Linked DNA regions of Homo sapiens: region 2 is linked to region 1. The links come from fine-mapping of genetic effects on gene expression. Tissue or cell type: lymphoblastoid cells. Region 1 holds a variant in brackets; the other region holds the start of a gene. All regions are shown on one strand. Distances are between the middles of the regions.

Evidence for each region. PIP is the estimated chance that this variant, and not a neighbour inherited with it, causes the effect.
Region 2: SLC68A1 starts here. The variant in region 1 is fine-mapped to the expression of SLC68A1 in lymphoblastoid cells (GEUVADIS, PIP 0.95). The same link has a PIP of 0.9 or more in prefrontal cortex.

The regions. Positions count from the first base shown.
Region 1 is chr10:102,494,639-102,502,738 of GRCh38, reverse strand. ACTR1A (actin related protein 1A) reads left to right here and starts at 27. Exons shown (of 11, transcript NM_005736.4): 1 at 27-139. The coding sequence starts at 92. RefSeq lists enhancers at 49-148, 1,543-2,043. The variant A/GA (reference allele first, on the strand shown) is at 4,414.
Region 2 is chr10:102,458,294-102,466,393 of GRCh38, reverse strand. It overlaps SLC68A1 (solute carrier family 68 member 1), which reads right to left and starts at 4,999. Exons shown (of 10, transcript NM_024789.4): 1 at 4,944-4,999; 2 at 307-412. LOC124902493 (a long non-coding RNA gene) reads left to right here. Exons shown (of 3, transcript XR_007062270.1): 2 at 580-716; 3 at 4,334-5,601. RefSeq lists enhancers at 3,917-4,599, 4,600-5,283, 5,411-5,480 and a silencer at 4,921-5,140.

The DNA of each region.
Region 1 (8,100 bases):
AACCGGCGGCTAGACTGCGCATGCGTGTCAGTGGCGCTAGCGGCGGACCCGGCTGGGCAGTTCCTTCCCCAGAAGGAGAGATTCCTCTGCCATGGAGTCCTACGATGTGATCGCCAACCAGCCTGTCGTGATCGACAACGTGAGTTGCGTCTTTCCTATCTATAAGGGGACTTGGGCTCTCCTCCTCGAAAGGATCGCTTCCCGGGGTTCAGCCTGAGCCGCCGGCTCTTTGTCACTGGCCCGGCCTGTCAGGCGCGTTCAGCCACCGCCGCCTCCTTCCTCCCCTTATCACATAGTCCGCAGGCAAGGCGGCCAGCCAGCAAAAGTGGGATGGAGAACTCTGGAGTGGATAAAGGAAAGAGTTATAGTCCAAGCCAGTCCTTGGGCCCTTGGCTCTAGGGGCCTTAACCGCTGTGTGAGATTCCCGTCGCCCGCCCTCTCCCCCATTTCCGATCGCTCTATTGGTTGCTCTGGCTGTCCATCTTAGCCAATGATACCGCCTCTTAGCCTTGCCGGATGAGGCTAGGCCTCTGCGGTGATTGGCTCACGCCCCTGCCATTCTTCCTTGCCGCCATATTGTTTTCCCTCTTGAAGGGGCGGGGCAGTGCTCCAGGGCTGTGGGGATTGGCTTCCGGGACTCTGGGTGGTGGGGCCTAGAGGCGAGTGCCCGCCCGCGGGTGGAGAACGGCTAAGTTTTCCTTCGGTCTCAGCCGGCGCTGCGGCTTGGTGGTGTGGATCTGGGTGGGGCCCGAGAATCTGGTGCCAGAAACCGCTGTAGGATGTCAGCTATTACTGTGATTATAAATTACAAAGTTGGTAAAGGTCGAGAAGAAAGGAGAGTGACAAAGGAAGCAGAGAGGTTGTCCTCCTCTTTGGAACGCCTAGTTCTTACGGGGAAAAAATTACCAAACTTAATATTTGCCTGGCGCTCTAGCGCTTCCAGGGCGTTTTCACATACATTCGAGTTGGATCCTCACAAAAACTGGACGCATAGTTTAAAAGGAACTTTGATCTTCGTGTTACCGATGAGAAAACTGAAGCGCGAAGACGTAACGTGAGCCCAAGGTCACATAGCAGAGGTGCCCTAAATCCAGTACTTTATCCGTCATCCCTTTTGCCAGCACCACCATGCAGAAGCATCAATATTGACCAATAGAAAGAATCTAAATACTGCTCTTATTTTGGGGGGAAAGGAGAAAATTGTAAAACGACTGCATTTCTGCCTTCGATTCAAAGCTTTGGTCCCACAGAGATTGATCCCTGTCTGTGTCCCTTGTAGGTCCCTCCATTGAGGCAAAACTACCAGTTCCCTCTGTTGTAAGCTGACTCTGTCAGATTCCCTTTGTTGATTCAGCTCTTGGGACCTTAGGCATATTACAATGTTCTCGTTTAAGCTTCAGCTCTGTTAGGTAGATAGGAATTACTATCCCCAGTGTATGCAGGGATGTTAAATAACAGATTTCAAACCATCCAGTTTAGGAATTGAGGAGCCAGTCATCAGACTAAGATCCAGTTCCAAGTTGCTTGCTTTTTCCAATATATTTTTGTTGTTGTTTTCATTAAATTTTCCTTCTCTCCATGGGTATTTTGTTTTTATTATTCCCCCTTAGAAAGGGGCAGGATTGAGCTCAATGAGACAGCTCATTTTTTTTTTCTTTTTTTTTTTTGGAGACAGGGTCTCGCTCTGTTGCTGAGTCTGAAATGCAGTGGCGCGATCACAGCTCACTGCAGCCTCAACCTCCTGGGCTCAAGTGATCCTCCCGCTTAAGCCTCCCGAGTAGCTGGGGCTGCAGGCACGCGCCACCACCCCTGGCTAATTTTTGTATTTTTTGTAGGAAGGGTTTCACCATGTTGTCCAGGCTGGTCTCAAACTCCTGGGCTGTTGCGATTCTCCTACCTTGGCCTCCCAAAGTGCTGGGATTATAGGCCTGAGCCACCGTGCCTGGCAGAGACGCCTCTTTTTTTGGTGTGGGGGGGTGGAGGGAACAGGATCTCGCTTTGTCACCCAGGCTGGAGTGCAATTGTGCGATCTCAGCTCACTGCAGCCTCCGCCTCCAGGTTCAAGAGATTCTCCAGCCTAGACTCCCAAGTAGCTGGGATTACAGATGTGCACCACCACGCCTGGCTAATTTTTGTTTGTTTGTTTGTTTGTTTGTTTGTTTGTTTGTTTTTGAGACGGAGTCTCACTGTCGCCCAGGCTGGAGTGCAGTGGCGCGATCTCGGCTCACTGCAAGCTCCGCCTCCCGGGTTCACGCCATTCTCCTGCCTCAGCCTCCCGAGTAGCTGGGACTACAGGCGCCCGTCACCTCGCCCGGCTAATTTTTTGTATTTTTAGTAGAGATGGGGTTTCACCGTGTTAGCCAGGATGGTCTCGATCTCCTGACCTCGTGATCCGCCCACCTCGGCCTCCCAAAGTGCTGGTATTACAGGCGTCAGCCACCGCGCCCGGCCTAATTTTTGTATTTTTAGTAGAGATGGGGTTTCACCATATTGGCCAGACTTGTCCTGAACTCCTGACCTCAAATGATCCACCCGCCTTGGCCTCCCAAAGTGCTGGGATTACAAGCATGAGCCACCACACCCAGCCCAGATACTTCATTTTTGAGAGGATCTTTTTGTCTCCCTCACTAGACTATTAAATCCTTGTGGAAAAAGATGATATTCTCCCACAGGTTTAGTGGTGTTGGGAAAAAAAATTTAAGAAAGATGATATTCCTTTAGTCTCACTTCACCCACTTCTCTCCACACACACACAGTATACCTAGGGTCTGGCACCTCTGTGTGCTCAATAAATGTTTTTTCATTGGATTGATGGGTGATTGGATGAATGACTGAATATCTCTATCAAAGTAACAAAGATATTCCTAAATAAAGAAAAGATGGGGAGTTTTCTCTAGTTAGTTACTGCAGATAATTGAGTAGGACTTTTTGTTCTTGATGTTGATTTTCAGAGAGCACTACGATTTCTGTCTTTAGCCAGGCTCTTTGTGCTTCTTCTGCCTTTTTCTTAGTTGTAAAAAGGAAAAATATATAGAAATTCAATTTCCTGTTTTCATCAGCAATGCAGAAGGAACAACCTGTCTATCCCACCAGCTCCTTTGCTTCTTGAATTGCTAGGCAGGAGTTCCATCTCCGGCCATTTTCTTTAATATCACTTACACTAATGCGTCTTAATTTTTTTCTTTCTCTTTCCTGGTAGTATGTTTCGAAATGCATTACAGCAGTGATGCATTTTTAGTTTCAAGATTTAAAGAATTGACTTGTCTTTTTTTTCCCCCTCTGGGAAAACATGTCCTTTATTATGCCAGTATTTCTGCCAAAAGGTGAAGTAGGAGAAACTTAAGTCATTTTCCTATTAGTATTTGCTGAAAATCTGCCACATTTTTACATGTGCGGTCTCAGGTAGTCCTTGTTGTTTAACATTTGGGGGGTCATTTTGTTTTTATTATTTTCAAGATGGTAGATGTATAGGAAACATTATTTGAAATACCTGAGACAACTTATTACATATAATGAGAATAATGTATCACTAGCTATGTTAACTCCATAGCTTAACATGTTGCTACACTTTATTTATGGGCAGAAGAGTATAATCAAAAGAATGCAGGAGAAAGAAAGCAGGGAAAGAGCCCCATTAAGTTCACAGCCTTTCCCAATCATAAGACAATTGTGACCACGTCTTTCATCTTACTCTGGCATCAAGTCATTTCATCAGAATTTAATGAGGAAAATGGAGGGGCAGGTAGGTGTGTGCTTTAATGACAACAATAAAGTGATAGGTATTTTTTTAATCACCCAAGAAGCTTTATGATGATAGATATTTTTTAAAACCAAATATAAGTCATTTCTTCCCAAAGACATAGAGAATAGTGTAAGATAGGAGCAGCTCCTAGGCCACATTTTGAGGACTACACTTTGATCAGAATACTATGTTTATTCTGAAACTCAAATTTTTCCTAAGATCCAGGCCAAATGTGGTGGCTTACTCCTGTAATTCCAGCATTTTGGAAAGCCAAGGCTGGAAGATCGTTTGAGCCCAGGAATTGGAGACCAGCCTGGGCAACATAGTGAGACTTCATCTCTACTTTAAAAAAAAAAAAAAATTAGCCAGGCTTGCTTGGTGGCATGCACCTGTAGGAGGCTGAGATGGGAGAATCACTTGAGCCCAGGAGTTTGAGGCTGCAGTGAGATCGTGCACCTCACTCCAGCCTATTTAAAAACAAAAACAAAAAAACTCTAAGTTTACAGTTTTGCCTGAACCTAAAATGGATCAACATTCCTGTCAAACTTAAAACTGTCTTTGTGACTATATGGACCTAAATGCAGGCTCTTCAGAAGTTCAACAATAAGCTAAGCATTTGTTTGTTTTGCTTTGGATGTTGTGCTGCTTCAGCCCCCTTTAAAAAAAAAAAA[A/GA]GAGAGAGAGAGATACTTTAAACACACAGAAAAATTCGGTGTGGTATATAACAAGCACCCAGGTAGCATGTGTCTACTACCCAGATTTAGTAAATATTGATGTTGCCATATTTGCTTCAGTATTTTTTTTGCTTTAGTGTTCCCATCCACCTTCATGTTTTAAGGAAATAAAACATTACAGATATAATTGAAGACTCTTTGTACCCCTCCACAACCCTATCTTTTTTTTTTTTTTGAGACAAGGTCTCACTCTGTTGCCCAGGTTGGGGCTCATTGGCACAATCAAAGCTCACTGCAGCCTCAGCTTGCCAAGCTTAAGCAATCCTCCCACCTCAGCCTCCCAAGTAGCTGGGACTACAGCCGTGTACCACCTGCTCAGCCTTTTTTTTTTTTTTTGTAGAAATGGGGTCTCCCTGTGTTCCCCAGGCTGATCTAGAACTCCTGGGCTGAAGCAGTCCTCCCACCTCAGCTTCCCAAAGTGCTGGTATTACAGGCATGAGCCACTGTGCCTGGCAACCCTATCCTTTCTCTCTGTTTTACAAATAATCCGCAAAACAACCATCATCATAAAATTGTCCTCCTTTTATACTCTGGAAGATAAGTCAGGAGAATTGTGTTGTTCAAGGCCAGCCTGGGCAATACAGCAAGACCCCCATCTCTTTAAAAAAAAAAATTGTGCTCCTTTCCACCTATGATTTTTTTTAATTTTTAATTATTATTTGTTTTTAAATTTTTTTTAGAGATGAGGTCTCACTCTATCACCCAGATTAGAGTGCAGTGCTGCAGTCGTAGCTCACTGCAGCCTCAAACTCCTGAGCTCGAGCAAACCTCCTGCCTCAGCCTCCCAAGTAGCTGGGAGTATAGGAGGAGCAAGCCACCATGCCTAGATCCATCCATGATTTTATGTGCATATGCATTTTAAGTTTGGCAGGGGAGTGTGCTGTTTGTGTTTTGAAAGTTTACTTAAGTGCTATCATCCTACTGTTATCTCTTTTTATTATAGCAATTTCAAACATACAAAGGAGAAGGAATAGTGTAAGGAACATCCATACGTTCACCTAGCTGTAACAGTTATCAAACTCTTGGCCAATCTTTTCAACTACATTCCTGCCCATTTCCCTCTCCCACATTCTTTTTTTTTTTTTTTTTTTTTTCCTGAGATGGAGTCTGCTGTGTGGCCCAGGCTGGAGTGCAGTGATGCTCACTGCAACCTCCACCTCCGTGGCTCAAGCGATTCTCCTGCTTCAGCCTCCCGAGTAGTTGGGACTACAGGCATGCACCACCATGCCCAGCTAATTTTTGTATTTTTAGTAGAGACGGGGTTTTGCCATGTTGGCCAGGCTGGTCTCGAACTTCTGGCCTCAAAGGATCCACCCGCCTCAGCCTCCCAATGTGCTAGGATTATAGGCGTGAGCCACCACGCCCAGCCCCACACTCATTTAAAAACATAATCAATATACTATTATCATGCCTAATCAAATCAACAAGAACCCCTTAATCTTATCAGTTATCTAGTCAATGTTCAGATTTCACTAATTGTCTAAAAAAATTTTTCTTTTACAATTTGTTATCAGCTTTTCTGATCCTACTAATGCTGATTCACTTAAGTTTTTAGGGACACTAGAATTAGCTGAGGAAATGAAGTCAATGTATTTATCTAACACTGTCACTTGCAGTGTGATATTCAGGCTGTTGGTTGTACAGCTTCAGCAAGAATCCATCCCTAGCTTGACAGAAAAGGTGAAGAAGAGGTGACTTATAAAGATATTTTCACTGTTCAATTATGTATATTTTGCAAGCCAAGGATGTGCTTCACACTGAGCTAAGTCCTCTGAGGGTAAAAAAGAAATCAGATACCATGTGGAAGAAGAAACGTCACCAATTAGTGGCTGCAAATGCCTAGAATAGGGATTTCAAATTCAATGCCTGCAGAGGCCAAGCAGGAATGGAAATATACTCAAAAGAGAAGAGAGAGAATAGCCTGAAAGGCACCTCTTCCAGGCTGGGAAATCTGAAAGGTGCATTGAATTGAGCATGCCTGACCAAAATGTTAACTGATTCTCCTTTCTATCCAATTGTCCCCATGCAGGAATACCGGCCTAGTGTTGCCAGATATTCTGATTTTTAAAAATTTGTGTATTTATCGAGGTCAGGAGATCGAGACCATCCTGGCTAACATGGTGAAACCCCGTCTTTATTAAAAATACAAAAAATTAGCCAGGCGTGGTGGCGGGCACCTGTAGTCCCAGCTATGCAGGAGGCTGAGGCAGGAGAATGGCATGAACCCGGGAGGCGGAACTTGCAGTGAGCCGAGATCTCGCCACTGGACTCCAGCCTGGGCAACAGAGCGAGACTGCGTCTCAAACAAAAACAAAATAAAATAAAAATACAAAAAAATTAGCCAGGTGTGGTGGCAGGCGCCTGTGGTCCCAGCTACTCGGGAGGCTGAGGCAGGAGAATGGCTTTGGACCCGGGAGGCGGAGCTTGCAGTGAGCCGAGATCACGCCACTGCACTCCAGCCTGGGCGACAGAGCAAGAGTCCGTATCAAAAAAAAAAAAAAAAAAAAAAATTGTGTATTTATTTATTTATTTATTTTGAGACGGAGGCTGTCTCTGTCGCCCAGGCTAAATTGCAGTGGCGCAATCTCGGCTCACTGCAACCTCCCCCTTGTGGGTTCAAGAGATTCTCCTGCCTCAGCCTCCCGAGTACTGGGACTATAGGCACGTGCCACCACACCCGGCTAATTTTTTTTTTTTTAGATGGAGTCTCGCACTGTCGTCCAGGCTGGAGTGCAGTCGCGCAATGTCTGCTCACTACAAGCTCCGCCTCCTGGGTTCACGCCATTCTCCTGCCTCAGCCTCCAGAGTAGCTGGGACTACAGGCGCCCACCACTTCACCCGGCTAATTTTTTGTACTTTTAGTGAAGACGGGGTTTCACCGTGTTAGCCAGGATGGTCTCAATCTCCTGACCTCGTGATCTGCCCGCCTTGGCCTCGCAAAATGCTGGGATTACAGGTGTGAGCTACTGCGCCTGGCCTTATTTTGAATTTTTTGTATATATTTTTTGAGGCAGAGGCTCACTCTATCGCCCAGTCTGGAGTGCAGTGGCAAGATCACAGCTCACTGCAGCCCTGACCTCTTGGGCTCAGCCTCCCAAGTAGCAAGGACTATGGACCCGCACCACCACACCCGAGTAATTTTTAAATATTTTGTAGGCCTGGTGTGGTGGCACATGCCTGTAATCCTAGCACTTTGGGAGGCCAAGGCGGGTGGATCACTTGAGATCAGGAGTTCGAGACCAGCCTGGCCAACATGGTGAAACCCCCTCTACACTAAAAATACAAAAATTAGCCGGGCGTGGTGGCGCACACCTGTAACAACAACTACTCAGGAGTCTGAGACAGGACTATCGCTTAAATCCAGGAGGCGGAGGTTACAGTGAGCCGAGATTGTGCCACCGCACTCTAGGTGGGTGACAGAGCCAGACTCCATCTCAAAAAAATTAAAATTAAAATTAAAATTAATATTTTGTAGAGACAGCGTTTTGCCATGTTGCCCAGGCTGGTCTCTCGAACTCTTGGCCTCAAGCAATCCTCCCTCATCTGCCTTCCAAAGTGATGGGGTGACAGGCGTGGGCCACCGCACCCAGCCATACTTTTTGTTTGTTTGGTTGGTTGGTTGGTTGG
Region 2 (8,100 bases), 36 kb after region 1:
CTCCCACCTCAGCCTCCCGAGTAGCTGGGATTACAGGCACCTGCCATCATGCCCAGCTTATTTTTGTATTTTTGTAGAGATGGGGTTTCACCATGTTGCCCAGGCTGGTCTTGAACTCCTGACCTCAGGTGATCTACCCACCTCAGCCTCCCAAAGTGCTGGGATTACAGGTGTGAGCCACCGCGCCTGGCCAATAATGCCTATCTTTACAGGGGTACAGAAAGGATTAAACAAATGTCCAGGAAGCACAGAGCACCGTGCTGTCACACGGAAGATGCTCAGAAAGTAGCTTTTTATTGGGCTCACCTAGATCAGGGTAGGAGCAGGTAAATATCCTTGTAATCGGGCTCCTTCCTCAGGTAAGGGAATTTGAAAAGATGGGTCACACGAGGAAAAGTCAGAAGATGGGGGCCTGCAAGGAGCAGGAACACATACAATGTTTGAGAATGCCAAAGACAAACTGCCCCCGGCCCCCTGTAGACCTGTGCCAACTGCAACTTGTCCAGGTAAACAGCCATCCTGGAGAGGAAGCTGAGGCAGGAGTGTGCAGGGTTACTCTTTTAATGTTTTCTCTTCCAGATTCCACTCCTCCATCGGGAAACAGCCTTCTCCCACTTGCCCTCCCCACCCTCAATCTGCCCCAGCAGAGAACAGCAGCCCCACCTCTCCCAGGGAAGAACAGCTTGGAGCCCACACCAGCCTCCTTGCATAAGCTGGTGAGAAATCCTGTAACCTGCAACCAACTCCACCCACCTCCCTGGCACCTTCCAAGACCCACCCTCATGGTCCCAGCTGGTGGCCTTGAGCCAGTCACTCCCTCTCCCTGAGCCTCAGGCTCCTCGCCCACAAAGTGGGGATGTTAATGTCAACCTCTTAGATGGCTGTGGGCTGAAATGCAAAAGGAATTTAAAGCCAAGTGCCTGCTACGTGGAAGACCCTCAATACACAGCAGCTATTTTTTTTTTTTTAAAGATAGAGTCTCGCTCTGTCACGCAGGCTGGAGTGCAGTGGCTCAATCTCAGCTCACTGCAACCTCCGCCTCCTGGGTTCAAGCAATTCTCCTTCCTCAGTCTCCTCAGTAGCTGGGATTACAGGCGCCTGCCACCACACTCGGCTAATTTTTTTTCTTTTTGTAGAGATGGAGTCTTGCTCTGTCGCCCAGGCTGGAGTGCAGTGGCGCAATCTAGGCTCACTGCAACCTCTGCCTCCTGGGTTCAAGCCATTCTCCTGCCTCAGCCTCCTGAGTAGCTGGGATTTACAGGCGCACGCCACCACACTCGGCAAATTTTTTTTTTGTATATTTAGTAGAGACGGGGTTTCACCATATTGGTCAGGCTGGTCTCAAACTCCTGACCTTGTGATCCGCCTGCCTCGGCCTCCCAAAGTACTGGGATTGCAGCCATGAGCCTCCACACCCGGCCTAATTTTTGTATTTTTCATAGAACTGGGGTTTCACCATATTGGCCAGGCTGGTCTTGAACTCCTGACCTCAAGTGATTTACCTGCCTCGGCCTCCCAAAGTGTTGGGATTACAGGTGTGAGCCACTATGCCTGGCCCACAGTAGCCATTTTCTTTTTCTTTTTCCTCTTTTTTTTTTTTTTTTGAGACAGAGTCTCGCTCTGTTGCCCAGGCTGGAGTGCAGTGGCACAATCTCGGCTTACTGCAACCTCTGCCTCCCAGGTTCAAGCAATTCTCCTGCTTCAGCCACCCGAGTAGCTGGGATTACAGGCATGCACCACCACGCCCAGCTAATTTTTGTATTTTTAGTAGAGACAGGGTTTCACCATGTTGGTCAGGTTAGTCTTGAACTCCTGACCTTGTGATCCACCCACCTTGGCCTCCCAAACTGCTGGGATTACAGGCATGAGCCACTGCGCCCGGCCTACAGTAGCCATTTTCTTTCCATTTCTTTGAAGTTTGGTTTCATGATTTTTTTTTTTTTGAGACGGAGTCTCACTCTGTCGCCCAGGCTAGAGTGCAGTGGTGGGATCTTGGCTCACTGCAACCTCCGCCTCCCAGGTTCAAGAAATTTTCCTGCCTCAGCCTCCCAAATGGTTGGGATCACAGGCGTGCGCCACCATGCCTGGCTAATTTTTGTATTTTTTGTACAGACGGGGTTTCGCCACGTTGGCCAGGCTGGTCTTGAACTCCTGACCTCAAGCAATCCGCCCGCCTTGGCCTCCTGAAGTGCTGGCTCACAGGCGAGAGCCACCGTGTGGTTTCATGATCTTTAAAGATCAGTCACTAGGTGGGGCGTTGTGGCTCATGCCTGTAATTTTAGGACTTGGGAAGGCCAAGACAGAAGGATTACTTGGGGCCAGAAGTTAGAGACCAGCTGGGGCAACATCAATCAAAAATAAAAATCATTGACCTTTCTGCCAAATCCATGATTGAAATTGTCTTTCCAGCACCCAAGCTTTATGCCTTTTGCCACCTGGAATATCCTAGCCCCTCTTGTCTGCCATCCATCAAATTCCTTTCTAAATGCCACCTCCACACTTTTGTTCATGCTGTTCCTGTCACCTAAGATACCCTAGGATAACTATATACTATTCCTCAGCCATACAGGGTATGCTTGGCTTTTATATCCATCATCAGACCCCTTACAGCTCTGTTACTATCTGCATTCACGTTCTGTACATGAAGAAACCAAGGCTCTGAAGATTAAATAACAGGCCCAAGTTACAAAGCTAGTAGGTGCTGGAGTCAAGATTCAAAACAGGTTTTGACTAAAACAACAGCGTTCTCACTTCATCATCCCCCCCACACCCTGCCCCCATCTTATCAAATCCTGCTCATCCAGTGTCACGGCTTTCCCAAGCACACCCAATCACGTGTTCTCTCCCGTTTTCCCCCTTATCAGGCATCCAAATGCCTCCCTTCCCCTCCTCCAGCCCACAGGCTTCTTAAAAGCAGGGCTGATACCGGGCGCGGTGGCTCACGCCTGTAATCCCAGCACTTGGGGAGGCCGACGCGGGCGAATCACGAGGTCAGGAGATCGAGATCATCCTGGCTAACACGATGAAACCTCCTCTCTACTAAAAATACAAAAATTAGCCAGGCGTGGTGGCGGGCACGCCTGTAGTACCAGCTTACTCGGGAGGCTGAGGCAGAATAGCGTGAACCCGGGAGGAGGAGCTTGCAGTGAGCCGAAATCGCGCCACTGCACTCCAGCCTGGAGGACAGAGTGAGACTCCGTCTCTTAAAAAAAAAAAAAAAAAAAGCAGGGCTGGGTTAGTCCCGCCCTTGATCCCTGCCCTTTGCCTCCACCAGGCTCCCTCAGCTTGCTCAGTCAATCCCTGCTGGGTCGATTGGCCCCTAAAAGGTCAATATCAACAACATCCTCAGCCCTAGGGAACAGCAGCAGCAGTCATAGGAAAACTGTCATCTTCAGACCCCACTGTGCCCCTCCTAGCTCTGTGTTCTGCTTAACTGTGGGAGTCAGAGAGAAGGGGCAGCCTGGGAGGCTTGATGTGCCTCTCTGAGTAAGACACTAAAGCAAGGCAGCAGGTACAAAGAAGAATAGTGATCATAACAGAGGAACATTTATTAAGCTTTCGCCGGGTGCACAGCACTGTGCTAAGAGACACAGAAACAATCTGGGAAGAGAGCTCAGAGCAGCGCGGGAGAAAGGGGCCACATCAGGAAGGGTTTTGTAAACCTTGTGCAAGATTCTATGCTGAGGACAACAGGTGGGGCGCTGGGGGTGGGGAAGTGACAGATCTGTTTGGAAGAAGCCCTCTAGCAGGTGTCAAAACTCTTCCCCTTCACCCTACCAGGCCCCTGGTAGGTAAAGACTAGAAAGGGATGGAAGCAGCAACATCTCCCTGATTTCTGAACCAACCTATGGTGGGTGGGGGAGGTTGATGAATTTAGTGGCGGAAACCAAGAATGCCGAACTGGGCCCCTGGAGTGAGAGGTATCAGACTGTACAAGAGACATTAGTGCAGAGGTAAAAGCTAAGAAGAGGCATAATTTGGAGTCAGGAGCCCTGGGTCAGGTGTGAACATTATCTTTAACTTACTATCTGAGTCTATTCCTACATCTGTGAAGCAGAGAAAACAATTCCATTCTCTGCCTATCCTCAGGAATACCAAATGAACAAATGAACATGAAAGGTATAATATGTGCCCTTTTCTCAACAGGCAGCTGACCCCTGAATTGTCTGCTGTGTTTCCTGTTTCACTCTCGGGGTCTTGTCTTCCTGCCCAGTCTCCCCACAGCAGGGTCTAGCACCAGGGTTGGGGGGTGGGGGCCCATCCTCCTCCTCCGGCTGGAAATGAGCTTTCAACTTGTTGAGATGGGGACCTTCTCCCTCTCCCTCCCCCACAGGTCCCAGAAGAGGCGACAGCTTCACCTCAGGACCACCCACCCCTCCCAAGCCACTGAGGAGTTTGGGATCAGCCCAGGAGCTCTTCACTCAATAGCTGGTGCTGAAACACGTGTAGGGCTGCTCCCCACCGCCTGCACGTTAAAATCACCTGAGGAGCTGTGCAATAATACCGAGGCCCAGGCCTCACCCAGAACAGTTAAATCGGAATCTCTTCGGGCGGGCCCAGCATCGGTGTTTTTCAAAGCTCCCCAAGTGCCACCAGGGTTAAATGCCTTTATGCTAATGGCACGGATCCCGACCTGACCAGTGCATCCCTCGATCCCAGACCACCAGGGAGCTATTTGACCCACTGCATCCCTTTCCTCCAGACCCCCGGAGAGCCTTTCTGCGAGGATTCCACCCTTGCCCCCTTGAACCCCGCTTCTTCCGCCCGGACCACACAACTCTCCCAATCCACAATATGATCACCCCAAAGACCCCCGCAGATAGCCCCCATGACTCCCAGAGCGCAAAGCATTCCCCTCCCCCTCGGGTCTGTCGTTTGTGCCAGATCGGCCCCAGCCCAGCCCGCTCCTGCCCGCGAGCCCCGGCCGCTGGCCAGCGTCTCACCGCAATCGTAGCCGGCGAAGCCTAATCCCACGGCTGGCGGGAGCCAGGTGCGAGCCAATGCGCCTGCGCGCACTTCTAGGGCTTCCCCAGCCTCTCCCTCCGCCCCCGCCCAGCGATTGGCTCCGCGCGGCCCCCGGGCGCAGCTCCGGCAGGTGACTGCGCCTGAGGCTGCCGCCGCCATGTTTGTCACGGGCGCTTGCCCTTAGCGACCAAAATTAAAAGCGGACACTGGCAAATAGGGTCAGGTTGCCTGGATTCCTGACCGGCTCAACCCCTCTCCTTTACCTCCACGATAGCTTAATGTCATTTCAGTTGAAACCAACACGTTTTTTCTAAGCGCTCACCTTCCTTCCCTCCTTGCCTAGTACTCGTTGGGAGAACAAAGAGAGGTCAGCATCCTCCATTGAGTCTTGTGGTCTGAGCGGATGCACAGCTGCAGCCGACTTGGAGGTGTCAGCGGCTCGATCTGGGACTCCCTGATGCTGCATCATGAGCCCTTCAAGGGTGGACAGGTCCAGGTTGAGCTGTGGGCACCAGGGCTCTAGCCACAGGAGCCAGGGCTGAAGGTGGGAAACAGCCACCAGGGCCTGAATGAGCAACCATGCAGCACAACCTCTTTGTATTAATAACGGCAATAATAAAACCTAAGGAGTACTGAGTGCTTGCTATGTGCACCGTACTACATTCAGAACAACACGTGCATTCTCTTGTTGAGTCCTCACATCATTCCTAGGAGGTAGGCGCTTTTATCCACATTTTATATGTGAAGAAACTGCATTTCAGAGAGATTCAATGACACGCAAACAGCAAGGGCCCAGTCGAGGTGGAACCCGCTATCCTGACTCCCATAACAAGAGTCTTTCCTCTTCCCACACCTGCACAATCCCTCAAAATCAAGTTTTGTTTGGCTCAATGTAGGCTGTGGAGGATGTTTTATGTTTTCTCCCAATTGGCCTGTAAGCCTGGATAGGTTTTTGGGCAAGCAAACAGCACACATTCCAGCTCTGCCTGGTTCCCCTACCTTGGGACACAGGGCAAAAAGCCTGTGGCCTTTGCCTTATGGGGGACTTGGAACTCAACCCCTAGCTCCAACACTTCTTTGCTAAGGGACTTCTTTATTATTATTTTTTGAAACAGGGTCTTGCTCTGTTGCTCAGGCTAGAGTGCAGTGGTGGCATGATCTCAGCTCACTGTAACCTCCACCTCCCTGGCTCAGATGATCCTCTCACCTTAGCCTCCCAAGTTGCTGGGACCACCACCTCACTCCACCATGCCTGGCTAATTTCTAGAATTATTTGTAGAGATGGAGTCTCACTATGTTACCCAGGCTGGTCTTGAACTCCTGGGCTCAAGGGACCCTCCCGCTTCAGCCTCCCAAAGTGCTGGAATGATAAGCGTGAGTCACTGCACCTGGCTGGGACCCTCCTTTTGTGAGTCTGTTTTATGCTTTACAGGGATTTTTCAGACATTAAATGAGAAACAAGGGTGTAGGAGCTTTGTGAACTGCTCATCCTTATGACCTTCATTGATGGTTGTCGGCTAACTTCCTGCAACAGGAATGTTGTCCTCCTCCTAACAACCACAGCAAATGGTCCAATGTAGACGCCTAGTGTCCAGGGGCTACAGATTATTCAACCAGTTCCTGAGGAGCCCCCAGGGATGCCATGAACCTTGCCCCCAGAATCCATCTCCCACTAACCTGTCTCATTTCCCTCCTTCCCAATCTCTCTCTTTCGGACACCCTTCACACTTCCCATGTCACCCCAAGCCACACATACACGCACACACATACATACAACCATCTCTCTTCTAGACTTAGACAACTGCTGAAACTCCTCCTGATCCAGAAAGCCTCATGAGTAGAAGACAGGTGATCATTTTGTCCCTCTCCTCACCTCTTACCTCCATCTGTGCTTTCCTGGCTGTGAGAACAGAAAACCCAGCATTCAGCCTGGGGTCCGGCACACTGGGATCTCCATACATTTGCTAAAGGAGTCTCCCCGCCTTTCTATCTGTGGCCAGCATGTGCTTTTATTTCAAAGCAAACCCGAGTCTTTACTTAGCCCTCCCTGGGTATCCAGTGGGGAAATGGAAATGGGGAGGGCTGGCAGGGGCCAGAGCTGGATGTGACCCAGGAGAAAAGACCTTTGGTCCCTCACAGCCAGGCAAGGTGGCTCACACCTGTAATCCCAGCACTTTGGGAGGCTGAGGTGGTTGGATCACGAGGTCAGGAGATCGAGACCATCCTGGCCAACATAGTGAAACCCCATCTCTACTAAAATACTAAAATTAGCTGGGCGTGGTAGCGTGTGCCTGTAATCCCAGCTACTCAGGAGGCTGAGGGAGGAGAACTGCTTGATCCAGGGAATCGGAATTTGCAGTGAGCCAAGATTGCACCACTGCACTCCAGCCTAGCGACAGAGTGAGACTCTGGCTAAAAAAAAAAAAAAAAGAAAAACAGAAAAAAGAAAAAAAGAAAAGACCTTTGGTCTCTCACGTTGCACTTAATGCCCCACAGTTACACTCTGAGGCCCCTCAACCCTCTGATTATATAGACAACGTAGCCAGTTACCTTTTATGTCAGCATCAGGGCAGGGCCTTGTGATTCTGTCTGATTTCTCTTTGTGGTTGCCAGTCACAGAGCTAACTGGGAGGGGAAATGCAATGAACTAGAGGCCATATCACCTCCCTAACTCATTGAGCCATACCGGAGTCCCTGGACCATGGGACAGATAGATTGTGCACTCTCTGTCTTTGAAATTCTCTCCTCCCTTTACTTCCCACCTCTCTGATCTAGTTTCTGCCATGTTCTCTTCCTACCTAATAATTCCTCCTCAGTCCCCTTCACTGCGGCACTTTCTCCCAGGGCCTCTAAAGGAAAAGGGAGGGTGTCCCAAGTTTCCATCTTGAATACTCATATACTCACTCAAACTTTTAATCCATGCCAGGCCACAGGCTGTGAGGTAAAGGGGACTTCAAAAACAAGATTGCTGGCCAGGTGCGGTGGCTCACGCCTGTAATCCCAGAACTTTGGGAGGCCGAGGTGGGCGGATCACCTGAGGTAAGGAGTTTGAAACCAGTCTGGCCAATATGGTGAAACCCCATCTCTACTAAAAAACACACAAAAAATTAGCCAGGCCCGGTGATGGATGCCTGT